2 separate regions of the Homo sapiens genome follow, and region 2 is linked to region 1. Evidence: fine-mapped expression QTL. A gene starts in region 1. The other region holds a variant in brackets. All regions are shown on one strand. Distances are between the middles of the regions. Region 1 holds the start of BRD1 (bromodomain containing 1). Region 2 overlaps BRD1 (bromodomain containing 1).

Region 1 (14,505 bases):
ACAGAGCGAGACTCCGTCTTAAAAAAAAAAAAAGTTAAAAACATGACTCATACAACTCTAAAGTGAAGACGTGTCAAAGATTTATTTTAATCATTAATGAGGAAACCAGCATGATGGTGAGGCTGGTTCAAAAGATTGGAGAGAAGGAAGTATTTGTAGTGACTTAAAAAAGTTTGAGTAATTCTGCTTATTTAGATTTTTAAAAAAACTGGTTAATGTTCTACAGGGCCATAAACCGCAACCTTTTCTTTTTTTCTTTTCTTTTTTTTTTGAGATGGAGTCTTGTTCTGTCGCCCGGGCTGGAGTGCAATAGCTTGATCTCAGCTCACTGCAACCTCCGCCTCCCAGGTTCAAGCAATTCTCCTGCCTCAGCCTCCTGAGTAGCTGGGATTACAGGCGCCCACCACCACGCCCGGCTGATTTTTGTATTTTTAGTAGAGACAAGGGTTCACCATGTTGGCCAGGCTGGTCTCGAACTCCTGACCTCAGGTGATCCTCCCACCTTGGCCTCCCAAAGTGCTGGGATTACAGGCGTGAGCCACTGCGCCCAGTCAAACTGCAACCTTTTTTACTGTAATCTTTTCCACTGGACAGAAATAATTTCTATCACTCACTACTGGGCAAAATTTATTTGCATTGCTGTCAGAGAGGAATAATTTTACTTAGCCATCTATCTTCAACAAATTAAAGTCTACCCTTGCTGAGTTGTAAAATATCGTAATCAATAGTATATAGCAAGTTAAGCAGGCGCACACTCCAGAGGATCCGAAAATCTGCCTGGCAGGCTTGCTCAGGAACATAGCCTGCCACTGAATGGACACACTCATTTTGGGGTGTCTAATCCTTAATCTGGGACATTTTTATTAGCTCCCTCTTGGGATGATAAATAATCTCCGAAGGTTATTCTTGACCACAGAAAGCTAGTCTTGCATTCTGACCTAATTCATCTACACAGGTGCTGCAAGAAGTGGTAATTACCACGCACGAGTGTCCTTGTTAGGTGACACATGTAAACCAGATGGCGTTATGCAATGACCAAGCCGGAAAATCAACTTCTGTCTGGACGTGTCATCATAAGGAATGTAGGACTGAGCCTACATCACACCTGAGATTTTTTGTTTTTTAATTTCTCTTATTTGCTCTTCTGTTCCTAGGCCAGGAAGCCGAACCAAATCCACCTCCCTCAGGTGTGCCCGCGGGACCTGTGTGTGTGCAAGTTTCTATCTTCCAGAAGGTTCCAGTGTCTGCCATGGCTCTTGGCCTGCCAGGAAGTATCCTTCTTACTACTTGTGAGGCTGAGGCTTTGTGTGCCAGAGTACAGGTGCCCGGCCAGTATGGGTCTGAGGGTTGTGTGGGCATTGGTTCAGCACACAAGCCACAACCCTTGTTCCTTAAAGGTGGGCGTGTTGTGGAAGCACAGGAAAGTTATTCTCAAATATGACACCCATGTAAGGCCTGGGCTCCACTATTAATTTGTCTGATTATATCCTGGTGACAAGGAGGACAAATTTCTACTGCAACAATGCAAATTACTACGTTTTTATTAAAAGTAAATGTCAGTAAAACTATTTTTCCTGAATTCTGAAGTGAGAAAAACACCATTTAAAGAACGTTTTAATGTTTGTGAAAGGATAGTCTCCTAAAGTAGATTGTTGCAGATACCGGGTAAAAATAAAAATTAAATAAATTAAAGGTGAGATAGATCAAAGAAGAAGGGTTTTGTCTTATTCCTGCCAGAAACAGAATATCAGAAACAACATGAGCATCCTCCTCCTTGCCTTTTCTTGGGCTGTGCTTTCAGCCTGCAGATATAACCATTCTGGAGAGCAGTGATGCCCCCAGAACCGCATTTTTGGCTGGTGCAAAATGGGGGGCAGTGGTTGTGTCTGGGGCCAAGTTTCTGTCCTGTATAGCCTAGAGATGGTTATGTAGCGGGGGACTGAGCTACTAAGTGAAGGCATAGATAGTTATGTAGAAACAGAGGAGGGTAGAATCAACTCCATGCTAGATTGTAACTGGAGGTACAGGTATCAGTATGAACTCAAGGTTTGCTAAGAGGTATCAGAAAAGATATGGGTGTGTGTGTGTGTGTGTGTGTGTGTGTGTGTGTGTGTGTGTGTGTGTTTGTACATACTTATTTCCTAGCTCTGTCTGCTGAGTGTAAATGGAATCATATTCTGTAATCTTTTGAGATTTCTTTCTTCCATTTAAAATTATGTGTTTGAGATTTGGCCGTGTTGGTGGTGGAATTCATTCATTTCTGTTGCTGTGTGCTATTCCATTGCGTGGATACACCTCACTTTGTCCATTTTACCGTCCTTTGATATTTAAGATTTCTCCCAGTATTTGCTATTAAAAACAGCGTTAAAATAAAAAAAAAAAAACACCAAAAACAGTGTTGCTCTGAACATTCATGCACATGCTTCCTGATGAACAAGTTTCTTTTTTTCTTTTCTTTTTTTTTTTTTTTTTTTAGATGGAGTCTTGCTCTGTTGCCCAGGCTGGAGTGCAGTGGCGCAATCTCTGCTCACTGCAAACTCTGCCTCCTGGGTTCACACCATTCTCCTGCCTCAGCCTCCTGGCTAATTTTTTGTATTTTTAGTAGAGATGGGGTTTCACCGTGTTAGCCAGGATGGTCTCAATCTCCTGACCTCATGATCTGCCTGCCTCAGCCTCCCAAACTGCTGGGATTACAGGCGTGAGCCACGGCGCCCGGCCCTGATGAACAGGTTTCTTAGGCACACACCCAGGCACGGAATGCACCTAGGAATACAAATTGACTTAACCCTACAGCCGGGAATGGGTATGCACACTGGGGGAGCTTGCATCTTCTCAAAGTGGCCACAACAACTTCTCCCATACAGCATGCTTCTCTTAAAATGTGATGATAACACATGTCCCAAGAGGTGGGGTCTGTATTCTCCCTAACTCTTGAATCTGGACAGGCTTGTCCCTATGGCAGAAGTGATGCGTGTGACTTCAGAAGCTAGGATGTGAAAAGTGATACAGGTCCCACCTGCTTCTCTTGAGACCCTTGCTCCTGCAGCATGGCTACTATTCCATGAGGATGTTCCCAAGGCCCTCAGCCCAGAGCCTGGATCAAGGTCCCAGCCACGTGAGTGCACCATCTTGGAAGTGGCTCCTCCAGCCCCTAGTGGAGGTGCCCCAGATAAGGATGCAGGAAGTAGTCTAGTTGTACCTGCTGAATCCTGCCCAAATAGCAGATGTGTGAACAAAAGGAATGACTGCTGTTTTGAGCTACAAAGTTTTGGGGGTGGTTTGTTTTGCAGCAAGAGGTAACTGATAAACATGTCCACTTTCACTGGGTAACGCCTTATGACCAAGATATTTACCAAATAATTGTCCCACTCGACATTCTGGCCAGCAGGGTATTGCTCTGCCATCTTGCCATCGCTGAGTATTGCCACATATGAACGCTGGTGCCTATTTGGTGTGTATTTTGTTTGCATTTCCAAATTTACTAGTAAGATGATTGGCCTTTCCATGTTCTCTGCAAGAAGCCTGATTATGACATGGGTTTCTTTGTTGATTTGGGTTTTGTGCATCATTTTGTTGGCTTGTTTGTCTCTTTCTAATGGATCTGAAGGGGTTCTCTATATATTCTAAATACTAATCATCTGCAAGGTGTACATATCTTTTAGTTTTTCATTCTTCAGTCTCTTTATGGTGCCTTTTGAGGAACAAACATATGATAATTTCCATCCTTTCATTTACGAAATGGAGTCTTGCTCTGTCACTCAGGCTGGAGTGCAGTGGGGCAATCTTGCCTCACTGCAACCTCAGCCTCCTGGGTTCAAGTGATTCTCCTGCCTCAGCCTCCTGAGTAGCTGGGATTACAGGCACGTGCCCCCATGCCTGGCTAATTTTTCTATTTTTAGTAGAGATGGGGTTTCACTATGTTGGTCAGGTCTTGAACTCCTGACCTCAGGTGATGCACCTGCCTCGGTCTCCCAAAGTGTTGGGATTACAGGCATGAGCCACTGTGCCTGGCCCCATCGTTTTATTTTTCATCTGTTATTTTTCAGGTGAATTTCTTGTAAGAATATTTCACCATATTTATATTCCATTCAGAGAGGTTGTCTTTTAATAGATGCATTTAATCCAATCACATTCCTCTGATTACTCAAATGTTTGAACTTAGTTCTGCCAACTCATATTATGTTCTGTATTTATCATGATTTTATCTTTTACTCATTCCTGTTTTTTTTTTGTTGTTGCTGCTGTCGTTTTTCATTTCGCTTTTTCCTCAGCTGTTCTGAAAGTGGTAAATTCTTTTTCCACCATTCTTGTGGAAACTTTCTGATAGTTAAAACTTTTTTTTTTTGTTTTTTTGAGATGGAGTTTTGCTCTTGTTGCCCAGGCTGGAGTGCAATGGCACCATCTCAGCTCACTGTAACCTCCACCTCCCAGTTTCAACCAATTCTCCTGCCTCAGCCTCCCAAGTAGTGGGATTACAGGCATGCGCCGCCACGCCCGGCTAATTTTTTTTTTTTTGTATTTTTAGTAGAGATGGGGTTTCTCCATGTTGATCAGGCTGGTCTTGAACTCCCGACCTCAGGTAGTCTGCCCGCCTCGGCCTCCCAAAGTGCTGGGATTACAGGTGTGAGCCACCATGCCCAGCTAAAATTTTTAACCTTTTTTTCTATCGATTCTAAAATCCTCGAACCAAACAATACAAGAGCTTTCGTGCACTTTCACTTCCTTCTGCGCCCCGCCTTACCATGTGTCATGTTGAGTTCATCCGGGATTTCTCTCAGGTTGATTTTCTTTTAACGGACCAGACTGATTTACTTGCTGGCATCCACGTCTTACTCTTGGGTCCACTTTTCACTTTGTTAAGGTATTTCTTCTAGTACTTTTACAGACTGCGTGTGTGGTAAATGTGGATGTTAACCGGCGGTGAAGACACCTTTATTTTGCTGTCTCACTGGAACGCTAGTTTCACTGTGTATGAGTTACGGTTCAATTCTCTTAGTATTTTGGCAACCCCTCCTCTGTAGGATGAGTCTGAATTCTAAAGAAGATCCTCTCCGAAGGCCTTCCTGAGTATCCCTGTGACATGCCTACGTTCGAGGCTTTGTTCTTCACTCCTCTGAGCATCACCTGCATTGTCTGAGAGGCCACTGTCCCCGTCTCCTCTTCTGTGAAGGGTTTCGTGTCTTTTCATCTTCTCTTTCATGAGACTGTGTCTTACTTTTGCTCTGTGTTGTGGAGAACCTCCAGCTTGGTTTCCATCTGGCTTCCCTGAGGTGGAGGAGAGAAGCGTTCGGGCTCAGCTTGCTTGTTTGGCCACAGGTAAACAGACATCTGTAGAATGGAGGTGACACGAAGCTCCTGGGTCTGGTGCAGAAGAGGTCAGGGCCCCAGTGGCCTGTACCCCCTAAGCTCAAGGGTGTGTCTGCAGGGAGTCCTAGATCAGGACTGACCACTGGGGCCTTGGCTGGGGTCCTACCTGCCCTTGAGTCGTCACGTCACAACCCACACACTGGGTGCCATGGGCATGAGGACTGGCCAGGAAAAGGCCTGTGGGGCCTGGCCCCTATCAGGGACACTTGGGCGAACAAGGCCACCCCACTCCCAATAAGGTGTTTGGTGCAGTGCCCCGAGCAGTGGGGCCGCTCGGCTGCCCCCGTGGGGACGGTCTGTCCCAGGGTGGACAGCTGCTCTTCCTGAGGGGCCTGCCTGGATGCCACAGGCTGTGCTGCTGGAACCCAGGGATTCCACAGCACCATCGTCCTGATCACAAATTCTCAAGGAAACCAAGGAGCTCCTGCCTCACCTTAAAACATTTGGGATTTAATCTTGGAGTGAAAATTGTTATGACCCCACTGAATTTTAGAGTTTACACAAAAGGCCAAAGTGAAGGCAGAGACTCAGGCCTCTCAACTCCCACCCGCAGGGGCCTTTTCTTGCAACCTTAAAGGGCATCTGCTTCACGCCGGCCTCGGCAGGGCCCTCACACTGGCAGGACTACTTGCACACCGGGCCTGACACTCACTAGGGGAGGCTCCCCAGCCCGGCTGCACCACCCACCTCTACCTAGTCGCGTGTCCCGGCCAGTGCCCTTTCCACTCCCACCCAGTGCCCCCGCAGGGCCCCCTCTGTCCTCTTAGGGACCTCCACTCCCGGACCAATAGCCTCCTGCCTCAGGGCCCCCCACTCATGGGCCAATCGCCCCCTGCCTCAGGCCTCCCCCCACTCGTGGGCCAATCGCCCCCTGCCTCAGGCCCCCACCAACTCGTGGGCCAATCGCCCCCTGCCTCAGGGCCCCCCATTCCTGGGCCAATGGCCTTCTGCCTCAGGGACTCCCACTCTCAGCTGGTCCCCCCCGCCTCAGGGACCCCCACTCCTGGCCGTTCCCCCGTCAGGGCCCCCGACTGGCGGCTGCTCCCCCATCCTGCCTCGGGGCCCCCCACTCCCGGGCCAATGTCCTTCTGCCTCAGGTACCCCCACTCCCGGCCCGTCCCCCCGCCTGTGGGCCCCCCACTCCAGGCCGGTGGTAGCCCCTGCCTCAGAGCCGCCCACTCCTGGGCCATCTCCTGCCTCAGCGACCCCACTCCTGGGCCAATGCCCTTCTGCCTCAGGGACCCCCACTCCCAGCCGGTACCCCCCTGCTTCAAAGCCCCCGACTCCCGGCTGCTCCCCACCTGCCTCGGGGCCCCCCACTCCTAGGCCTACGTCCCCCTGCCTCAGGGCCCCTCATTCTCCATCCTCCTGACCCCCTCAGGGACCTTCTGGCCCGGTCCTCCCTAACTCAAGGGCCCCCACTCTCCATCCTCCCGACCCCCCACTCCCAGCCCGGTCCCCGCCGCCTCAGGGCCCCCTTTGGCCCCCGCTCCTCGCGGCGCCCCCTCCCCCGCGCGCGGCCGAGGCAGCGGAGTCCGCGCGTCATGGCGGCGGCGGGCGGGGCGCGTCTCGCACGCAGCGCGCCGGGCGGAGCGCTCGCCGCATTGTTTGCTTCGCTGGGGAGCGAGCGAGCGACCCGGCCCTGGAGTCCGAGCCAGCCCCGCGTCCCGCGCCCGCCGCCCGCCGCCCGCTCCCGCGCCCGCGCCCGCGCCCGCCGGCCGGGCCCCCCGAGCCGGGCCTCCAGCTGGGCCCCGAGCCCGAGCCCGCGCCGCGCGAGCCGCTGCCCGAGAGTCCGCGGCCGCCGCTGCCGGGCCCGGAGCCGCCGCGGCCGAGAGGGGCCCGCGCCCAGGAGCGGCGGCGGGGCCCGGCCTGCGCGGCCGTTGGCGGAGGAGCCGCGGGCGCCATTAGCACCGCCTCGGCCGCGCCGGCCCCCGCGCCCGCCCGCTTGCCGGGCTCCCGCGGCCGCGGCGCCCCGAAGGTGAGTGGGCGGGGGCCTGGCCGGGGAGGCCTCCCCGCCGCCTCGCGGGCCGCCCGGCCGCCGCCGCCGCCTCGGCCCGGCCTCTCGGGGTTGTGGTGCCGACGCCATGTTTGGCGGCGGCGGCGGCGGCGGCGGCTCCGCATTGTCTGCGGGCCGGGAGCCCGGGATGCCGGGGAGGCCGGGCGGGGAGACCGGGGAGGTCGGGCCGGGCGGCCGGGGAGACGGGCGGGAAGACGGGGAGGCCGGGCGGGGAGACCGGGTAGGTCAGGCCGGGGAGTCGAGGGAGGCCGAGTCGGGCTGTGGGTCTCGGCGGCCTGGGCCGCGGGCGCCTGCCCGGAGTCCGCGCTCGAGTCGGGTCGGGCCTCGGGCAGCCGCCGAGCCGGCCGGGCCGCCCCTTATGTAACAGACAGGCCCGCCGAGCTCTGCCAAGACGGGAACTCCCTGTGAGCAGGGACGCGCCCCGAGATCGCCCAGGAGCCGCGCGGCCTGCGGCGGCCGGGCTTGGGAACCGGCACCGCGGCCTCCCCGGGCGTTTGCAGGGAGACGCCTCGCGACGAACGCGAGGCTTCCCCGGGCCTTTTAAAACGAGTGACACGATTGAGGCGCAGTTCACGGGAAACGCGGCTCTTGTGAGCGGACGCGGGAGTTCTGAGAATCCGTAGCAGCGGGACCCCCTGCCCCGCGGGGTGCGGCCCCGTCTCCCCAGAAAGCGCGGCCGCCCGTGTCTGTTTTTGAGGGTCTGTCGCCAGGTGGTTGTGTAGTTAGTGGAATCGGCGGATGTTTTTGTTTGGCCGGCCCAGCGCCGTCCCGAGTGCTGTGTGCTGCACACAACTTCGCACAGCTCAGCGGCCGCGGCCCCTGTGGCCTTGACCGAGAGGCCCGGCGCGTGGCCGGCTTCTCCCTGGGCGGGCGGTGGGAAGATGGAAGCGGCCGTCTTGTGGGCAGCCTTCCCCGCCTGTGGCCCGCAGGGCTCTTCGATGTACTTAAGGGAATTATTCCTTGAGAAGCTACGTGTGTGCCCCCGCGGATCCCTCCCAGTGGAAATGCTTGTCCCAGTGGAAGGGCCAGGGACAGAACCGGCCCAGGGGGGAAGCGGTGAAGCAGAGGAGGTCGTGGGTCGCCCTGCCCTGCTGAGGGCCTACTTTCCCCGGGTCCCAGTTGCATGTTGAGGGTATGGAGCTGCTGTGGCCGTGAAGCCTTCGGTTCAGTTCTCCCCTTGTAGAAAGTGTTGCGATGAAGAGCTTCACGGCTCCCTGGGAGAGAGTGGGTTTCCAGGGGCTGCTTGTCGTTAGGGCGACTCAGGACTTTGCTGTCGAGGGGAAAATGACAGGTTCGTTTCTGATCTGGTGAGTAACCAACTGTTGCTTCTGCCCCACCTCAGTAATGACGCGTGTCGGCGTCCCGGGTGCACTAGGGTCGCTCTCTGCAGGCTGTGGTGTCACCTCTGCAGGGCTCACGGGGCCGGCTGGGGGGTGGCTGTGCTGACAGCTCCCCAGGAATCCAGGGTTGAGTGGGTACCTGGAGGCCCTGGAGATGCAGGGGGTCTGAGGTTTGGCCGACCACATTTTCTCTCCTATTCCTTTCTGTAGGTAATTGCAATCTAGTTTCAACATACAATGAGGATTTCTGTCTGATACAGAGAAAGATACCCAGTGTCTGGAGGGTCTGTCTTAAGAAGTGCTCTTGAAGTCTGCTGGGATTTCCTTTCGGGACTCACAGAGGGAAGCCTGCTCCCTGAGGGCTTTTTCTCAGGCCCAATAGATCAGGGTAAGGCTGCTGTGGGTGCCCCTGATCCCCCTGGGCCCCGAGGCCAGGCGTCCCTGACGTGGCAGGGCTAGATGCAGAGTATGCCTTGGGCTTCAGCTGAGAATATTTGTTTTGCGAGTCAGTCACTGAAAAATCATTTTGCTTCCTGTCAGTGAAGTGTGGCGCTTTGGAGGGAGGCACTGCCCAGCAGGCGGTGGTCTTCACAGGAGGTGTCCACACACCAGGCACCCTGGGGACAGCTAGGAATAGACGCAGTCCGTGGTGTTGGGACAGCAGAGGCCTCTGCCACGAGGAGCTGGAGGTATGGGAGGCAGCTCACTGGTTTTGCCTACCTCTGGAAAAGCAGATTCTCCTAAGCCTCTGTGGCCAAGTCTTCAGGCACCTGAGCCAGCGCTGGCGACCCTCCTGGTGAGGGTCTCTGCAAGCAGCGAGGGGTTCCTGGGGGTCACCCCTCGCTGTGGAGCCTGAGTGGAGCGTCTGCCTTCACGTGTGCCGGGGAGAACAGAGATTCCCTTTGGCGTCATGCATGTGTCTGGATTCTCTCAGAAAGGAGGAGGACGTGGAAGGAGGAGGACGTGGCCAGCACCATGGTCTCAGTGGGGCTTGAGGAGTGCCCCTGAGGGGAAGGGGCAGGTTGGCTCAGCCTGTGGTGGTTTCCATGGTGGTCACTGCCAAGGCTCTGCAGAAGCGGGGTTGGGGCCTCCCAGGGGCCAAGACTGTCCCCTCAGACCAGTACAGGGCTCCCCTGTTGGTCCCCTGTGCCGTGTTGTGCGTGTGGAGGGCCTGTCTATAGAGGATGGACAGGCTGTGATCTGTCTCCTACCCCTGGCCCCAGCAGGAATGCTGCAAGGACTGTGGTGACTCTGGGCTCATGGGAGTGCTCTCCTGGGAGTAGTGGGGAGGGGAAGAGTGGTTTAGGGGGAGCATCCGATAGGACCAGGTAGCCACTGAGCATGCCTGTCTGGTGGGCATAGCCTCTGTGCCTGGTGGGGTCCAGCCCTGTATGTGGACTTCCTGGGGGACCGCCTGCATGCTGGGAAAGTCCTGCAACTGTGGGCTCTGGGCCGGACCCCTCCTCCTTGGGGAGCGTTGCTGTGGTCTCCGCAGCCTGTTGGTGTGGTCTGAGAGGGGACTGGTGTGTGGTGGTAGGGACGCAGGTGCTCAGGAGGGCTCCTCAGGCTGCCTCTCTGCCTGTTACTGCTGCTCCCTCCCTGGTCCTGGGGACTCGCTCAGGCCTGGATGTGTGGTTTTGGACACCTTGGAAAGAGGTTAGCTGTGAGTTTTGCTTTGATTGGGCTTTGAGCTGCTGAGCTAGATCTGTCCAAGCATGCTTTTGTGGTTTTCTCGAGTCTTTGGTCACCCTGCGTAGAATTACCTTTACTTTTGCCTTCATTTTAGGTAATCATTACCAAATGAGGAGGAAAGGACGATGTCATCGAGGCTCTGCAGCGAGGCATCCTTCTTCCCCATGCAGTGTTAAACACTCCCCTACGCGAGAAACGCTGACCTACGCTCAAGCTCAAAGGATGGTAGAGATAGAAATTGAAGGGCGCTTGCACAGGATCAGTATTTTTGATCCCCTGGAGATCATATTGGAAGATGACCTCACTGCTCAAGAGATGAGTGAGTGCAACAGCAACAAGGAAAACAGCGAGCGGCCTCCTGTCTGCTTAAGAACTAAGCGTCACAAAAACAACAGAGTCAAAAAGAAAAACGAGGCCCTCCCCAGCGCCCACGGCACGCCGGCCTCGGCCAGTGCCCTCCCGGAGCCCAAGGTGCGCATCGTGGAGTACAGCCCTCCGTCCGCCCCCAGGAGGCCTCCTGTGTACTACAAGTTCATCGAGAAGTCGGCCGAGGAACTGGACAACGAGGTGGAGTATGACATGGACGAGGAGGACTATGCCTGGCTGGAGATCGTCAATGAGAAGCGCAAGGGCGACTGCGTCCCCGCCGTGTCGCAGAGCATGTTTGAGTTCCTGATGGACCGCTTCGAGAAGGAGTCGCACTGCGAGAACCAGAAGCAGGGCGAGCAGCAGTCTCTGATCGACGAGGACGCCGTGTGCTGCATCTGCATGGACGGGGAGTGTCAGAACAGCAACGTGATCCTCTTCTGCGACATGTGCAACCTGGCCGTGCACCAGGAGTGCTACGGGGTGCCCTACATCCCCGAGGGCCAGTGGCTCTGCCGCCACTGCCTGCAGTCGCGGGCCCGGCCCGCCGACTGTGTGCTGTGCCCCAACAAGGGTGGTGCCTTCAAAAAGACAGATGACGACCGCTGGGGTCACGTGGTGTGTGCCCTGTGGATCCCAGAGGTCGGCTTTGCCAACACGGTGTTCATCGAGCCCATCGATGGGGTGAGGAACATCCCTCCAGCCCGGTGGAAACTGACATGCTACCTCTGTAAGCAGAAGGGCGTGGGTGCCTGCATCCAGTGCCACAAAGCAAACTGCTACACAGCATTCCATGTGACGTGTGCCCAGAAGGCTGGCCTGTACATGAAAATGGAGCCCGTGAAGGAACTGACTGGCGGTGGCACCACCTTCTCCGTCAGAAAGACCGCTTACTGTGATGTCCACACGCCTCCAGGCTGCACCCGGAGGCCTCTGAATATTTACGGGGATGTCGAAATGAAAAATGGCGTCTGTCGAAAAGAGAGCTCGGTTAAAACGGTCAGGTCCACATCCAAGGTCAGGAAGAAGGCAAAAAAGGCTAAGAAAGCTCTGGCTGAGCCCTGCGCGGTCCTGCCGACCGTGTGCGCTCCTTATATTCCCCCGCAGAGGTAAGCGTGTCCAAGCATTGAGTCCACAAGGAGCCTGCAGTGTGGGACCCTGGGAGGACGTGGGCACAGCCTGCAGGGCCCGTGCTGTGTGGTCATTGCGTTTCTAGTTGGCGCAGCTTCCTAATATTCCCCTGAAGTGTGGTTCTGCTTGTTTACCACGTCTTTTTGGGGAATAGATGTTGTAAAAGATTTTAGTCTGTAGGCTTGGAATAATCTGTAGTTTTCTATGTTTTTTTTTTTGGAGACGGAGTTTTACTCTGTCGCCCAGGCTGGAGTATAGTGGCGCAATCTCAGCTCACTGCAACCCCCGCCTCCTGGGTTCAAGCAATTCTCCTGCCTCAGACTCCTGAGTAGCTGGGACTGCAGGCGTGCGCCACCATGCCCGACAAATTTTTGTATTTTTTAAGTAGAGACGGGGTTTCACCATGTTGGCTAGGCTGGTCTCAAACGCCTGACCTCAAGTGATCTGCCCGCCTTGGCTTCCCAAAGTGCTGGAATTACAGCACTTGCTCAGCCTTTTTTTTTTTTAAATAGGGTTTTGCTCTGTTGCCCAGGCTGGAGTGTAGTGGCACGATTTCAGCTCTCTGCAACCTCTGCTGCCAGGTTCCAGCAATTCTTGTGTCTCAGCCTCCTGAGTAGCTGGGACTACAGGCGTGTGCTCCCATGCCCAGCTAATTTTGTATTTTTAGTAGAGGCGGGGTTTCACCATGTTGCCCAGGGTGGTCTGGAACTCCTGAGCTCAGGCAGTCTGCCTGCCTCTGCATCCCAAAGTGCTAGGACTATAGGCGTGAGCCACCATGCCCAGCCGTGCGTGAAGATTTTTAAGAATTTCAGTGACTAAACTTTAAGAAGGAATGAAGCCCACGCAGGAACTCTGTATGACTTTCAACCCGAGGGGCTCTGGCCTGGGCTTCCCAGTGACTGCCGGCATCGGGACATCCACTGCTGTGGCCTTGGCCCCGTTTCCCGTGCTGTGCCCCCCACTTGCTGCAGATGCCCTGAGGAAAGGGTGGCCAAACAAGGGGAGGAGCTGTGAGCACAGATGGGGCCTGCCGGTCAACAGGGCGGGTAGAGCCAGCCTGGTGCTGAGCTTGCAGCTTGGCTGGGGGAGACGCCTAGAGCCCCAGTACCACACAGACCCTCCAGGACTGCCGGGGGTCAGTGAGCAGGACCCTCTGAGGTGTCAGACCTGCCCCACATGTGAGGGGAGGACAGCACAGGTGGGACGCATGCAGGCTGAGCTGCATCGGGCGGTGAGGCTGGGAGGTTGCAGTGAGCTAAGATTGTGCTACTGTACCGCAGCCTGCGTGACAGAGTGAAACTGTGTCTCAAAAAAAAAAAAAGAAGTTTTAAGTGATTTTTGTTAATATTACTCTACTTTACCAAAGTGAAGTCCAGTTTCTTTTCACAGAGCTGTAAATACTCAGATAATTAGTCAATTCAGACAGAATGAACAAAAAATGCTCATAATCCTTCCCATCCAGGGAAAACCCTGTCAAAACCAAGGTGTTTGTCTTTGTAAATTAATCTGACTTTGAAGAGATGGTTTTGCTTGGATTTCTACCTATGAGTCAAAAAGTCTAGGGTTTGTATTAAGAGCTTCTGTATAAGAGGTCTAAAAATTTCAGCTTTACTGAAATTGAAGCAAAATAAACAAAATGTGATCTAACAAAATGAAGAGCCAAAAGTCTGAAGTGCTCCCTTCCCTGGCCAGTACCAGATGATGACCTGCTCTGGGAGAGGCCGGGCCTGGCCGGGCCGCACGCTCTCTGTTCTTTGGCTCCTGATGTTGGGTAGGCAGGACTGAAGGAGGCAGTGTTTGCATGCAGGACATGGGGGCTGAAGTGGCCAGGGCTGATTGAGAAGAAAACTCGACCTAAATATTTGAAAGCATGTATTGGAGCTAAACCGCGTACTGTGTGGTTCTGTTCTTTTCCTAACTTGGGAATAAACTATTATTTCAGCTTCGAGTAGAGAGAGAGAAACAAACCTGGACGAGTGTTCCTGGCCGCGGTCTCTGCAGTCTGGGTTTCCCAGTCTCCAGGAGATGCTGGTGCTTCAGGCCACCTTGCCACCAGTGGAGGAGCTCCCAGTGCGCCTGGCCTGTTGGCACCATGGTGCTGGACCCACCTCTGGGGTGGTTGTGAGGGGCAGGCTCTCAATACAGTACTGACTGCTGCCTGAAACCGGGTTTACTGCCTTGCTGTGGTCTGAGAGGCAGCTGATCTGGCAGCCCTGTTCTTAGGCCCTGGGCACTACCCCTGGGTGCATGTAGGAGGCCTCAGCTGTGCATTTGAATTCTGTGTAGATGAGGGTGAAGCTTCTTATTTTTTATTTTATGTTTAGAGACAGGGTCTTGTTCTGTTGCCCACGTTGGAGTGCAGTGGCGTGATCATGGCTTACAGTAGCCTCAAACTCTTGGACTCAAGCGATCTTCCCGCCTCAGCCTCCTCCCAGCCTCAGCTGGGAATACAGGCACGAGCCACTGTGCCTGGCCCATGGTGAAGCTTCTTGATGTGCAGCCGTGGGCGGGGATGCTGAGTCTAGTTGGTTATGGTGTGCACTAACCAATGGCTCCGGTGTAGGACCCACCTAGAGCATCTGAGGATGTTAT
Region 2 (14,505 bases), 46 kb after region 1:
GGATCCAGCATTCCCACATGACAGCTGTGCTCCCTGCGGCTGACACGGGAGGCTTTTTGTTGAGGTGAGGCTTCCCCCTTGTATTTGAATTGGCTGTGAGGTGCTCTAAGGCGCCGAGTGTCATTTAAAATCAGAGGCACCTCGCAGCCGAAAGCACTGCTGCCCGGCGTCATGGCCCAGCCTTGGGAGAACTTTCTTCAGCCTCAAAACATTGCTCTGAGTCCTGTTAAGTTGTGTAGTTTTGTATTTTCAAAACAACTTTTTGAATGACAATAGTAACCATACATACTTCAAACGGTTTTAGGAAAGTTTGCAGGTTTAATGAAATGAAAACTGTACCCAGTGATAATATATACTAAGGATTATTTAAAGTGTTTTATGTCACTTTAAATAATCACAAAATCCTTGGTTTTATGTCACACTTCCTGTTGTCAGTACCGGTCCTGCTTGGAAGGAAGCCTCAGTGGCTGGGCTTGGCTTGTTGTGGCGTCGCCTCGCCCTGTTAGCCTCGTGCCAGAGCCTGTCCGGCCCCCTGGACTCGGGACAGTGCACAGAGCCCCACAGACCAGCCCCAGGCCGTCCTCCTGACCTCGGGCTTTTTACCATTTCACACTTCCGGTTTTTATAATGTCAAAAAGACTTTAAAAAGAGGTTAAAGCCGTCTTTTTCCAAAGACTTCTTATTTTTAAAAGTCAGATTTTTTTTTCCTGAAAGCTCCCATCACAATATTTGGGAACGTGGCACGGACTTCTGTGCTGTGGGGAGCGGGGCTTTTTTCCCTGCCTTTCTTGAAAATCATCCACAGCCACTCACCACTCCCTGTTTTTTTTGTTTGTTTGTTTGTTTTTGCATTTTTGACTTAAGACCTTGACCAGAGATCAGATTTAATGTTGCCTTCCTTTTATTTGCTAACTTCGTGGCCCAGTAGAGCTCTGTGGGAATGCCCGTTTAAGGCCCCTTTAGTTATGTGAGATACCTTTTCTTCCTCAAGGTAAGTGAATTATTCATTGCAGAAACTGTCATGAACTCGAGTGACGTGTTTAATATTGGCGCATGTGAAATAATCTTTCACAGTTTTTTTCAGAGAGTAACTGTGTGCCTGGGCACTGCACCCAGGGCCGCAGCCTTTGGCGTTAGGGAAGCACACACAGTGTGGCCCGAGCCCACGGGGCCCACACTGCCGAGCAGACAGTACATGCGATGCCTTGTTTCCTTAACTGAATTAGTATTTTGGTGGACTTCACATTTATAGTAAGTTTTATAATAGATTTTATAATCTTCAGTTTTCAAAAATCACTTTATTTATAATTTTTTCAGGAGATAAATCTCCCCCTAAACTTGAACCATCAGATGCATTACCTCTTCCTTCAAACTCGGAGACTAATTCAGAACCACCAACCCTCAAACCAGTAGAACTCAACCCAGAGCAGAGTAAACTTTTCAAAAGAGTCACATTTGATAATGAATCACATAGCGCTTGCACTCAGAGCGCACTGGTAAGCGGACGCCCTCCAGAGCCCACCCGCGCCAGTAGTGGCGATGTGCCGGCGGCGGCGGCCTCCGCGGTGGCGGAGCCAGCAAGCGATGTAAACAGACGCACTTCTGTTCTCTTCTGCAAATCGAAAAGTGTAAGCCCCCCAAAGTCTGCCAAGAACACTGAAACCCAGCCAACTTCTCCTCAGCTAGGGACCAAAACCTTTTTGTCTGTAGTCCTTCCGAGGTTGGAGACTCTTCTGCAGCCAAGGAAAAGGTCGCGGAGCACATGCGGAGACTCCGAGGTGGAGGAGGAGTCCCCAGGAAAGCGCCTGGACGCAGGTAAATGCCGCGGGCGGCCCTGAGAGGCGCCCTTGCCGACCAGTGCCTGGAGCGTCCTTCAGGATCATTGGTGTGACGGGGGGGGGGGGGTGTCCAGCTTCTGTTTTTGCAGCATTCTCTTAATTTCCAGAGAAGACAACAGTGCAGTGTTTTCTTTGAAAAGCCTTGAGTTGCGGGTCTGAGGCCGGCGCCTTCGTGGGGGGCCTGTTTGCCACGAGAGATTGTGCAACCTTGCTGGGCTGCCCTGGGCCAGGGGTCGATGGTCCTTGGTCCTGTCTTCTGCCACATACTTCCTCTCTGATTTTTTTTTAAGAGAGTCTTGCTTTGTCACCCAGGCTGGAGTGAGTGGCTCACTGCAGCCTCCAACTCCTGGGCTCAGGTGATCCTCCTGCCTCAGCCTCTTGTGTAGCTGGGACTACAGGTGCACACCACCACTCCCAGCTAATTTGAAAATTTTTGGTAGAGATGGGGGTCTCGCTGTGTTGTCCCGGCTGGTCTTGAACTCCTGGCCTCTGACTCCCAAAGTGTTGGGATTAGATGTGTGAGCCGCTGCACCTGGCCCCTTCTGATCTTTAAAAAAGTACTGAGAATGAATTCAGGTGTAGTTTTAATTGGTCATCTTGACTTTGCTGTGCACATCTGGATAAGCTGGTGACTGGCCGCTCCCAGCACTTGTGGGAGCTCGACTCTGCAACCCTCAGTCAGGTCTCCTTGCAGCCCCACAGACCTAGGACCTGGGGTTGAGCCTGGCCCTTCCCTGGACCTCTGAGAGGACCTGCCCCTGTGGTAAATGCAGTACTTTGCAGTTGATTTCAGCAACATTTACTCATTGTTTTATGTGGCCCTCTTAGCCACATATGTGATGAGGTATTAGGACCTGCTGAAATAGCACTGGAAAGCGCTTCTCATCTCTTGCTGCGCTTTTGTAACTGAACTCTGTTGAATTCCTCGGTGAGGGTGTTGCCGTGTGTGTGCTGTGCTGGGAGCACTTTGAGGAGGCCGCTGTGTTCCTGCAGCCTCTGCTCCCCGCCCCTCAGAGGAAGCTGAGGAGTTTGTCCTTTAAAGAGGAGCAGCTGTCATCGGTTTGCTTCTTCGGTACTGGCTGCGCTTCTGGAGGTGCCGGCTCAGGTTGCCAGCGACTCTTTTCTGGAAGCGTGTCTGGAGCATGTTTGTCATTTTGGTTTTTGTCCCGAGTCAAGGCTTGGTTCCCGTCTGTCCTGTCTGCCTGTTATACCTAGATAAGGAGATGCGCATTTTCTCCTGGCTGTGCTGGTGTGCCGTGGTGCCTCGTGCACTTGAGCAGTGAGAGAGGGTGGGGCTGGGTGGGTGTTGCTTATTTCCCAGAGTGGCAGCAAGTGAGTCCTGTGTCATGGAGCCTCACCAGGCCGGGTGCAGATGGAAGGCTGTGGTGGGCAAGACCTGCCCAGGCCACTCCCTCACATCTTGTCCCTGTTCCTTCTGCTGGTCTCTGGCCTGAAGCGTCCGGGGAGGGGAGTGAGACCAGGCACTGTCAAAGGTCTTTGTGCAGAAGGAGGCTCACTTCCTACCCTTGCCAGCAAGCAGGTCATGCGTCTTGTTGCCAAAGTAATTTCTGGTAAATTTCATTTTGATTTGTATGAAAATTTTGCACGTAACTGAATGTGTAGAAATTTTCTACCCATGTCCTTTTACTTTGATGGATTGATGTTAAATTGGCATTTTAAAATAATTTGAAAAAGCTTTTTTGCTTTCTAAGTAATAGGAAGCTATTGAAATGTTTCACAAGATACCAATAAGAATAGATGTCCTTGACTCAGGACTGGGGGATGTGTCTTAACCACGTTGGTCTTTCTTAGCCACCTTTGGTGAAAGACTCTGACCTGGTTTTCCAAGCACCCCGGAAATTCTGTGATGAATCGGGTCAGGGTGCTGTGCACTGGGTACTAGAGGTTGGGTCAGTGTAATTGTGGGCGTCCCCTCTGCATGCAGAACTTGGAGTTCGGCTGACGCTCCACTTCCTCGGGGTTTCACGTCTGTCGGCGGCAGAGGTATGGGGCTGCGTGCGTGGAGGCCCTGCCGGCCGTGGGGCTGGGGTTTGAGGCGGCCTCCCGTCGACACTCAGCAGGATGCTCACGTGGTGGTTTCCACCAGGTGGCCCCACCTGACCGGGCCCTGCCCCAGCTGTGGGCTCCCACTGTGGACAGTTTTGCCGGCTGGCGGCCACGTCCTCAGCAACCTCTCAGGCTCGTTCATCAGATGTCCCTTGTAGAAGAGCACGTGTCCCCTCCGGGCCACTGTCTTACATTGGAGTGGAGTGTTTTGCGGGCTTCCCGTGGTGACGGTGGTGTAGAGCAGTCTTACTGCAGACCTTCAGTGAGCGTGGCCCATGGTGGCTTTTGAGAATCATGGTGCCCTCTGATCCTGACTGAAGTGGAGATTTCTGCTCTCTCATTTCCGAGTGACAGTGGATTTCCGTGGAGGTGCGGTGAGTTCCTGAGCTCTCTCCTGAGCAGCCGGGAGCCTCAGCAGCATTAAGACCAGGCCCTCGGGAGTGGGAGGCATTCCACTGCTGTGGCCGAGGCGCCCGGGGAAGGGCTGGGCGTGCTCTGAATGGTGCCAGTCCCGCCATCCGCCCTCGCTTTGGTTTCACCGGAACCTTCTGGTGCTCTGCACATGGGGGATTTCTTGCCCAGAGCTGCAGTTCTTCGCAGTCTTAGGACAGGAATTATCCGGAACCTTCTGATGTTTTCCATACATGCATCTGTGTGCTCTGAACTTTAGGGAGTTATCTGGCATTTTCCAGCACACGCACAATTCTGAGTTAGGCTGAACAGGGTCGCTGGTCCTGAGGCGACGCACTCACTGTGGGCCTCCTGCCCGTGTCGCCCGCGGGCCGGCTGTGCTGTGCGCCAGGCTTCTGTTCCTGCGATGGCCCAGCCCCAGAGTCTGGCCCTGACTCGTGGCTTCCTTCCTCCGTGACTGCACGCTCACCAGCAGTGAACCGTCACCTGAAGCGGCCTTCCACTCGCCGCCGTTGCGGAGACCCCTGCTGCGAGTCTCTGTGTGCACGTGCTGGGGCGTGTGAGAGCGTGGGGGTGTCTTTGTCTACTCGCCGCCGTTGCGGAGACCCCTGCCGCGAGTCTCCCTGTGCACGTGCTGGGGCGTGAGAGCGCGGGGGTGTCTTTGTCCACTCACCGCCGTTGCGGAGACCCCTGCTGCGAGTCTCTGTGTGCATGTGCTGGGGCTTGAGAGTGTGGGGATGTCTTTGTCCACTCGCTGCCGTTGCGGAGACCCCTGTTGCGAGTCTCCATGTGCACGTGCTGGGGCGTGAGAGCGCGGGGGTGTCTTCAGTGTCCTTCGGCTGTTCAGGGAGGAGGCTGAGCTGTCCTGCCCTTTCATTCAGACTAAATGGCTTTTTCACTGTTTTCCAGGTTCTCACTTTAACCACTAATGTGCTGGGTAGTTCACTCTTTGGACCCTAATCATTTTCTCTTACCTCAACTTGGACTGGAGTTCTGCTAAGCGGCCGTTTTGGAATGCACAAAGATCACTGCATCTTGCCTTTCACTTAATTCTTGCGGATCACATTGGAATCATCAGCTCAAACATCCTCTAGACAAAATCACAAACAGCAGCCCTGGAGGAGCTCTCCCCCACCCCAGCCCACCCCCTCTGTAAGTCAGAGCCCGGCAGTGGGAATGGTGCTGGCGCCCGGTGCACGCCTGGAGCTGGCGGGATGTCGTGGCACCTCAGCCTTCCCTCTGGACAGTCACGAAGGACGCAGAGGAGAGCCCGGCACCGACTGGGAGCCTGCTGCAGCTGACGACACAGTGGACAGCATTCTGAGGCTGTCCTGAGCATGTGCGGAGCCGTCCCATAGTGACTGGTGGTTTGGGTGTGACGGCCATGCCCAGGCGCGTTGTGCTGTGTCTGTGCCATGGGGTATGGAGGAACTTGGCTCGGCACTGTCTGAGGATGTGGCATGGACAGTGCGTGCTCACTCACTCGCTAGCATCTTCTGTATTTCTGGGTTTTCTACCTGATTTCCTTCTCCCCTTACTTCCCCTTCCTCTGTTTTTTCCCCACAATGCCCAGTGGATTCTTGAGCAGTGCTGCTGTTTGTCTCTTGCTGGTCACCACGCTGAGTGCCCCTGCGGCCAACTGAGAAG[T/A]CCTGCTCGTGGGGTGGGGCATCTGTGCGTGGGATCTTGTGCAGGCGTCTGTCCTGGGCCTTGGGTCTGTCTCTGACCATCCCAGCTGCATTGTCATGGAGCTGGGTCCCAGCAAGAGCAGGTCTCGTGCAGGCGTCTGGCCTGGGCCTTGGTTCTGTCTCTGACCATCCCAGCTGCATTGTCACGGAGCGAGTCCCAGCACGATGGGCCTTGGGTCTGTCTCTGACCGTCCCAGCTGCATTGTCATGGAGCAGGTCCCAGCAAGATGGGCTTTGGGTCTGTCTCTGACTGTCCCCAGCGGCATTGTCACAGAGCAAGTCTTGTGCAGGCATCTGGCCTGGGCCTTGGGTCTGTCTCTGACCATCCCAGCTGCATTGTCGCGGAGCGGGTCCCAGCACGATGGGCCTTGGGTCTGTCTCTGACCGTCCCAGCTGCATTGTCATGGAGCAGGTCCCAGCAAGATGGGCTTTGGGTCTGTCTCTGACTGTCCCCAGCGGCATTGTCACAGAGCAAGTCTTGTGCAGGCATCTGGCCTGGGCCTTGGGTCTGTCTCTGACCATCCCAGCTGCATTGTCGCGGAGTGGGTCCCAGCAAGAGCAGGTCTCGTGCAGGCGTCTGGCCTGGGCCTTGGTTCTGTCTCTGACCATCCCAGCTGCATTGTCACGGAGCGAGTCCCAGCACGATGGGCCTTGGGTCTGTCTCTGACCGTCCCAGCTGCATTGTCATGGAGCAGGTCCCAGCAAGATGGGCCTTGGGTCTGTCTCTGACTGTCCCCAGCGGCATTGTCACAGAGCAAGTCTTGTGCAGGCATCTGGCCTGGGCCTTGGGTCTGTCTCTGACCATCCCAGCTGCATTGTCGCGGAGTGGGTCCCAGCAAGATGGGCCTTGGGTCTGTTTCTGACCATCCCCGGCTGCATTGTCACGGAGCAGGTCCCAGCAAGAGCAGGTCTCGTGCAGGCGTCTGGCCTGGGCCTTGGTTCTGTCTCTGACCATCCCAGCTGCATTGTCACGGAGCGGGTCCCAGCAACATGGGCCTTGGGTCTGTCTCTGACCGTCCCCGGCTGCATTGTCACGGAGCAGGTCCCAGCAAGAGCAGGTCTCGTGCAGGCGTCTGGCCTGGGCCTTGGGTCTGTCTCTGACCGTCCCAGCTGCATTGTCACGGAGCGGGTCCCAGCAACATAGGCCTTGGGTCTGTCTCTGACCGTCCCCGGCTGCATTGTCACGGAGCAAGTCTTGTGCAGGCATCTGGCCTGGGCCTTGGGTCTGTCTCGGACCGTCCCGGCTGCATTGTCACGGAGCAGGTCCCAGCAACATGGGCCTTGGGTCGGTCTCTGACCGTCCCCGGCTGCATTGTCACGGAGCAGGTCCCAGCAAGAGCAGGGTGCTGTTGGAATCTTCTTCCGTGTGTGTTTTTGTTGAGAGGTTGAAAAATGCACCAAAACTGCTCTTCTTTTAACGATGGTAAAAGTGAAACTGAAAACAGGAGATAGTGGGCTCTCCTTTGTCACTGCGTGGGGCCCTCAGGGCTCTGGTCTTCAGGGTGCAGGCTCAGCCCACCTGCTTCATACGGCCAAGCTTCCCATGAGCCGGAGAAGCCGAGGTGGCAGCTTGGGTGCCAGCGGCAGGGGCGGGCAGGGGCGGGCTTGTATCCCGTGTTGTGGGGTTGCGTTCCCATGGCTCCGTGCCCTCAGGTGTCTCGGCAGCCACTGATCAGGGCCTGGTGTTCTTACACCTGTGGCCTGGAGGATTTGTGGTGTCCACATGGGTTGGGGGCTGGGAGCCTGAGACCAGAGGAGACTACGGCCCATCAGTCAGACCTGCAGGCCTCCGCCTCCCCAGGTGGGCCCTGGGGCTTCTCTTCCCTGTGGGGAGGGGCGGTGTCTCAGCCGCTGTGGCCTTCAGTCTCTCAGAAGACCCTTTGGGGACCTCCCGGGACAGTTTCAGGTGTGCTGTGGACGTACCTGGTGACGGGCAGGCTTCCGGGGACTGCGCTTGGCTGGGCTGTGGGACACCTTTGCGCCATCTCCTTTGGGGGCAGAGAGGGACATTTCTGTGTTCAGTCTTTGGCCTCCTAGGAGGTCACTGGGAAGGCCCTTGAGGGTGGGTGGACCCTGGCCGCTGTGGGAATTCCGTGCAGCTCCTGTGTTGATGGGGCAGCGGCTCTTTCCTGGCAGCCGCCGCCTCTTTTAACGTATTTCTCACAGTCACCAGCTTTACTTTCAGCGTTAAAAAAAAACCTCGTGCTGAAAAAGTTGCTGAAAGTTGCCCCTTGCTATTTACATGATTTAGAGGCTTGGGCTCGGCCTCAGTGCCTGCTGTTTGCAAATGCCTCATGGACCGGGCACCCATCTCTGCAGACCTTAGGCCCTGGGTTCCCCACGTTGGGCCCCACCTCAAGGCTGGCCTGGGCTTCAGAATGTTCTGGGCTGAGGTCCTTGCAGGGGTGCTGAGGTGCGGGTCATGGTGGACATCTCCCAGCTGGCTGGAAGAGCCTCCCAGGGCGGGAGTTGGCAGGGCCGAGATTGAGAGATCTCAGAACCATAGCTGTCTTAGATTATTTTCTGGTGGTCCAGGTGGAGGCTGGGAGGGTCCGGGCAGCGCAGGCCACCTTGCAGCTCCCCCGAGGTTCTGGGGACTCCAGGCGGTGGCTGCAGAGCCTCCCGGGATGTGTCTGTGTCCTGGTCTGGCTTCTTGGCTTCCTGGGTGACCCCGCACTGCCGCAGCCCCCAGACCGCCTGTTAGCAAGCCTTGCAGCTGTCCCACCCCCGCCAGGCCTCCTGCTGGGTGGTGTCTCGGTTGGGCTGGGTTTGTCTGTGCTGCCCACGTCTTCCCGGGTGCTGTCACATTTTCATGGGTGACACGCAGAACCTCTGTGTGTTCTTGCGTCATACGCGCACTCACTGAATGCTTAGGAAAATTAAGAGGGGCATTTTATCATTCTCCTCTTTCTGAGAATTAAGGACTTGCCTTGTGTTTTAATCCCCTTCCTGGCCCCACTCCATGCACACGGAGCCGGGGCCGTCGTGGCTGCTGAGTGGTCTGTGCATGGCTTGGCTGTGTTGGTGCTGGCACAGCTGCGGGTGATCTCGTGCTAGGGCCCTCAGGCTGGCACCTCTGGGCAGTCTTGTGAAGGCCGCACTGGTCATCGTCTTCCCCCAAGTGGCCGTTGCTCGGCCAACCAGTAACTACTAAAAGCCTCCCCACCCAGGCCCTGGGCTGCGTCTGTTCAGCCTGGAGCAGGCTCACCCTGCACCTGGGGTCTGGAGTGTGCTGGGGGCCGGGCTGTGGGGTGTGGGTCGCCAGGCTCGTGGCTGCTCTCTGGAGACGGGTCACACGCGTTGGCAGACCCCTCTCCGGGCCTGTGGGCTGAATGCTGGCAGGGGTGCTGGGCTCCGTCCGTCCACTGCTGATGCGAGCTGGGTGGGCTTCCCTTGCCTTCACCCACTCAGGTTGGAGTAGGGATGGAGTCGCTGCTCCTGAGGGGTTCTCGGGGGCCAGGACGGGACTTTTAATTCCCTCTTGAGACATCTTCGGGGCCTGAGTGTGCAGGGTCTGAGCCCACTCTGTGATGAGTATGGGGAGCATGTGGAGCCCCAGGGCAGCTCAGCGTGTGGCTCAAGGCCTTCTCCTGTAGGTTTTTAAATTTATTTGTTCCCTTGCCAGAAATGAGTATGACACCCCCAACTGGCCACAGTTCCTGCCTTAAAATGACCGAGGTTAAAATGAGAAACACAGAGCTTCCCTTGGAGGTCACGGTACATTCCAGTCCAGGAGAGACGGAGCCGGTGTCTGACTTGAGTCTGTGGAGGGCAGCAGTGCACCCGCCCAATCTGTGCATTCCCTTCTGAGCTTGATTTAGCCCCTCTGTTTCAGTCAGTCATGCTCATTGAGAACAGACAGCAAGTGTATGAAGCGGGTGGAGGCTGATTCAGCCCCTGTATTGAAAAGTCGGTCGTGCTCATTGAGAACAGACGGGAAGCGTACGAAGCGGGTGGAAAATCCCGCAGTCCAGCCATTCCCTTCAAAACATGCCTCCCAGCCACTCAGGAGGCTGAGGCAGGAGGATCACTTGAGCCCAGGAGGTCAAGGTTGCAGTGAGCCATGGAGTCCATTGCACTCCATCCTTGGTGACAGAGTGAGACATCGTTTCCAAAAAAATTCTACAGAAATGCTCTATTTACAAATTTACATAATTTCCTTTGGAAATAGATTTAAAAATTTTTTAAGGATGAGGTAGGTAGGCAGGAAAACGGGGTTCTTTTTGGATAAAAAAATTCACATGGCCGGGTGTCATGGCTCATGCCTGTAATCCCAGCACTTTGGGAGGCCGAGGCAGGCGGATCACGAGGTCAGGAGATTGAGACCATCCTGGCTAACACGGTGAAACTCCGTCTCTACTAAAAATACAAAAAATTAGCCAGGCATGGTGGCGGGCGCCTGTAGTCCCAGCTACTCGGGAGGCTGAGGCAGGAGAATGGCGTGAACCCGGGAGGTGGAGCTTGCAGTGAGCCAAGATCGTGCCACTGCACTCCAGCCTGGGCGACAGAGTGAGACTCCGCCTCAAAAAAGAAAAAAAAAATCACACACCCCTTTAGCTCTGACACCCAGAGGGCCCCCAGCAGGAACATCATCCCCCCGTTGTGACTCCCATGGGGGACCTCATCGGGGGGCCTTGGGCAGATGTGTTGTTTCCCGTTGACTGACAAAGTCAGGATTTTTAGGGGGAAAATACTGAGATTTGCCTTATTTTTTAAACATTGAGATGATGGAATTGTGAGTGGTGTTTTGTTTAGCTGTGTACAGTACTTGCAGCTTCATGGTGAGTGAGGCCAGACACACTCAGACACGGCGATGGCCCCGGATTTTGTGTTTTAAAGTGTTTCGTCAGCATTTTTGACTTCATGTTAACACTTGTCTTTTGAACCAAGGTTTTTTCTTTTTAAAACCTGATTTCCTATTCCCTGGAGCTCTGCTCCTGTGAACATGTTTTTGTGTCTTTGGTGGCCCCTTCGGCCTGGTGAAGTTTCCGTTCAAACGCGGCCGGTGCCCACGTGGACAGGCCGCCCCCGTGTTTGCACTCACAGGTTGCACATCTGCCCCCATGGCAGGCTCACGGCATCCTTTCTTTGCCTTCACAGAGCCTGTCTAAAGACCCGGGCTTGTCAAGAGGAGCATCTTCATGGTGCTCAGCAAACTACTACGATCGGAGCCGACTGCAGTTTGTTAAGTTGATTTCATTTAACGAGTAACTTTGGTGTCTGCTTACTGTAAGGACTATGCTCGGGAACTTGGGAGTGAAAAGGAAGATGCTGTCTTACCTGTCTGTGAAACGTGCTTTGTAAGATGTGTTCCAAGTGTAACGTCGTTGAGTCATGCTTCAGTGTGCCCTGGTTGTGCTGAGCTCAGGGCCTGCCCGCCTGTGTTCCAGGTCTCACCAACGGCTTTGGGGGTGCGAGGAGCGAGCAGGAGCCGGGCGGCGGCCTGGGGAGGAAGGCCACACCCCGACGACGCTGTGCCTCCGAGTCCAGCATCTCCTCCAGCAACAGCCCGCTCTGCGACTCGAGGTGGGCACCGCGGCCCTGCGCTTCCCACCACGCAGCTCCCAGCACCGCCCGCCCCGCCTGGCTGTCCTGGAAGCCGGGACATTCCAGCTCCCATCTTAGTGTTCTCTGAAAAATTCTGGCCTGGGATTCATGTGTGCTCTGCCCTTGTGGACAGTTTCCCATGCTGCATATTAATCTGCTTTATAGAATTCAAGCAGAAGTAGGAAAAACACTGCGTGAAATAGGAACACAATTTTAGAATCTGCAATGAAGTTTTACACTTGATCTTTACCTCCCAGAATCTGGCAATGAGCACAGCCCTGCCTGTCTGCCCTGTGAAGGCCACTTTGGCCTCCTGAGTCCCCCCTGCCACAGGTTCACTCCCTCCAGACCTGCGCACCCACAGGCCCGTCTGGCCGCGGGGGTGTCAGGCAGGATGCGTGGCCAGCTTGGTGGCGGACAGCTCACGGGACGAAGCCCGAGTGAGGCTGAAGGCAGGGGCGGGGCGCCTGACTCCCTCTGCTCTTCCTCCCGAAGCTTTAATGCGCCCAAATGTGGGCGGGGCAAACCGGCTCTTGTGCGACGGCACACGCTGGAGGACCGCAGTGAGCTGATCTCCTGCATCGAGAATGGGAACTACGCCAAGGCGGCCAGGATCGCAGCCGGTGAGTCGCCCGGACCTGCCTCCATGGCTCTCCACACCTCCTGGTTAGCGTCTTAGGGCTCGACTGCTGGGGACTGGACTCCGGCTCAGGGAGCATGGTGCCCTGTGTGGAGCCCCACCCTGGCCAACCTCCCGGGGAAGGGTTCATCACACACCGAGGGGCTCTGGGCTGTGGCCCTGCCGGGGTGCCTGCGGAGGTGGCGCCTCCTCCATCCTGCCTTCGTTTCCCTGTGGAACGTCCAGCTCTGTGTGGCTGCTGGTTGCCAGGCACTGTCAAGGCTGTCTGGGGTTGTTTAGGTTCAGTGGTCATTTGCAGCTGCACAGGGGACTGACTGCAGGGTGGGTGCCCTCAACTTCAGGCCCCTGGGGGAGGGGGAGGCCCCAGGGTTTGGGGTCGCACAGCCCTCACTGTGGAAGGCAGCCATGCTGTGAGGGGGCATCAGGACGGAGATCCCCCAGGTGGGAGGGACAGCAGGGAGCTGGTCTGGCGGAGGGGGAGCCAGGACTTTGGTTTCCCATTTGGGGTGTCAGTTGTGTAAATGAGGCAGGAGCATGCTGGGAGCCCCGTCCTTGCGGCAAGGAGGGCTCAGAAGGGACTGTGCTGGGCACCTGGAGTTGGAGCCTTGTAGCCTGGAGGGCAGGAGCTTCCCTGGGTCCGTGGGAGGCTGGTGGCCCCAGGTGGGCTGCAGGGACAGTGGGGATGCAAGGGCCTGGACCCCACAGGGGAGGCAGTGGTGCTGCCGGGGTGGCTGAGAAAGGCCTGGGAGCTGGGCTGTGCTCGGGGGACCCACCCTGTTGCTGCACCTTTTGTGGGGGGGCGGGGCGTGCCCCGTGTCCTGCTGACGCCTGTGTCCTGCTGACGCCCCTCTCCGCAGAAGTCGGCCAGAGCAGCATGTGGATCTCCACTGATGCCGCCGCCTCGGTGCTGGAGCCTCTGAAGGTGGTGTGGGCCAAGTGCAGCGGCTACCCCTCCTACCCGGCACTGGTGAGTACGGCTCTCGTGGCGCCTGCGGGTCCAGAGGAGGCTCACACAGCTGCGGGGCGGGGGTGGTCCGAGGAGGCTCACGGCGGTGGTCCAAGGAGGTTCCACAGCTGGCGGGGGGGCGGGGTTGGTCAGAGGAGGTTCACACAGCTGGAAGGGGCAGGGGTGGTTCGGCGAGGGGGGCGTGGGGGTGGTCTGAGGAGGCTCACACAGCTGGGGTGGGGAGGCGGGGGGGGGTGCCAGTGACAGGTGGGGTTGTTTATGGGTGTGAGCCTCACAATGACCTCAGCGGGTCCTTCTCGTGCAGATCATCGACCCCAAGATGCCCCGTGTGCCTGGCCACCACAACGGCGTCACCATCCCGGCCCCACCCCTGGACGTGCTGAAGATTGGGGAGCACATGCAGACCAAGTCTGATGAGAAGCTGTTCCTCGTTCTCTTTTTTGATAATAAGAGAAGTTGGTGAGTTGAGAGGCCTTAGACTCCGGGGACCGGCTGGGGTGGTTGGGGGCCGTGGGCTCGGTGACCTGAGTGTCCCTGTGGTGAGCAGCGTCTTTGTCTGCTGGGCCCTGGCACAGCTAAAGTCGGAGGTGAGTGCTCCGCTGTTTGCCTGGTGGAGAAGGGCACTGCCCAGCCCCCTCGCCGGGACTGTGGGACGGGCACTGAGCACCGGGTCTGTCTCTGCCCGATGGCTTCCTCTCCCTCTCGCCTGAGCCCCATTGGTCTGGACTGTCTCTTCCCTACTCCTTACCCATGTGTCCGCTCCAGTGTTGGGGGTCCCTCTGCTGTGCTCCCGGACCCCTGTACTGCAGGACATGGCCCCTGCCCGGGCCTGGCCTCTGGCCCTGTTCTTAGAGCCTTCTGTCCCAGCATCATCCAGCTCTGCTCAGACATCCACCCCATCACAGGAGGCTCCCCCTGTGCCCTGAGCTGCTTTTCCCCAGAGCGTCTGGGACCCTCATGTGCCAGGGTTTAGACCCCAAGATCCCTCTGTGCAGGACACGCTGGCAGCACATGCCTCTGGGAGGAGCTGTGGCCCCGGCTGTGCCCTGCGCACGTGGCCCGGGCAGGTGCTTCCTGGTTCCCCGTGGAGCTGGCTGCACTTGGGACCTGGCGCAGGGGCTCGGGGCCACCTGCCTATGGTGTGCCTGGAGCAGGACTGGCAGCACAGGCATCCCTACCGTCTTTCTCTTCCTTGCCTCGACCTCTGCCTCTTTGGCCACGTGGCCACTGCTTCTTGTCAGGCCTTGAGCGAGGCCCACACCTTGTCCATCCGAGGGCCCCTTTGATGGGGTCTCCCCAACCACCGGCCTCTGCTCCAGGGCCCACCCTGACTCTGGGCTTGGTGTGTGC

What was found. PIP is the estimated chance that this variant, and not a neighbour inherited with it, causes the effect.
Region 2: its variant is fine-mapped to the expression of BRD1 in whole blood (INTERVAL, PIP 0.96).

What each region holds. Positions count from the first base shown.
Region 1 is chr22:49,820,337-49,834,841 of GRCh38, reverse strand. BRD1 (bromodomain containing 1) reads left to right here and starts at 6,969. Exons shown (of 13, transcript NM_001304808.3): 1 at 6,969-7,345; 2 at 10,511-11,891. The coding sequence starts at 10,525. LOC105377205 (a long non-coding RNA gene) reads left to right here. Exons shown (of 5, transcript NR_188597.1): 5 at 1,155-2,393. RefSeq lists silencers at 6,835-6,904, 7,635-7,804 and enhancers at 8,305-8,504, 9,714-10,293.
Region 2 is chr22:49,774,700-49,789,204 of GRCh38, reverse strand. BRD1 (bromodomain containing 1) reads left to right here. Exons shown (of 13, transcript NM_001304808.3): 8 at 1,318-1,815; 9 at 11,392-11,527; 10 at 12,044-12,171; 11 at 13,046-13,155; 12 at 13,460-13,614. Among named protein-coding and RNA genes, the nearest start is that of BRD1, 46 kb to the left of the region's middle. The variant T/A (reference allele first, on the strand shown) is at 5,964.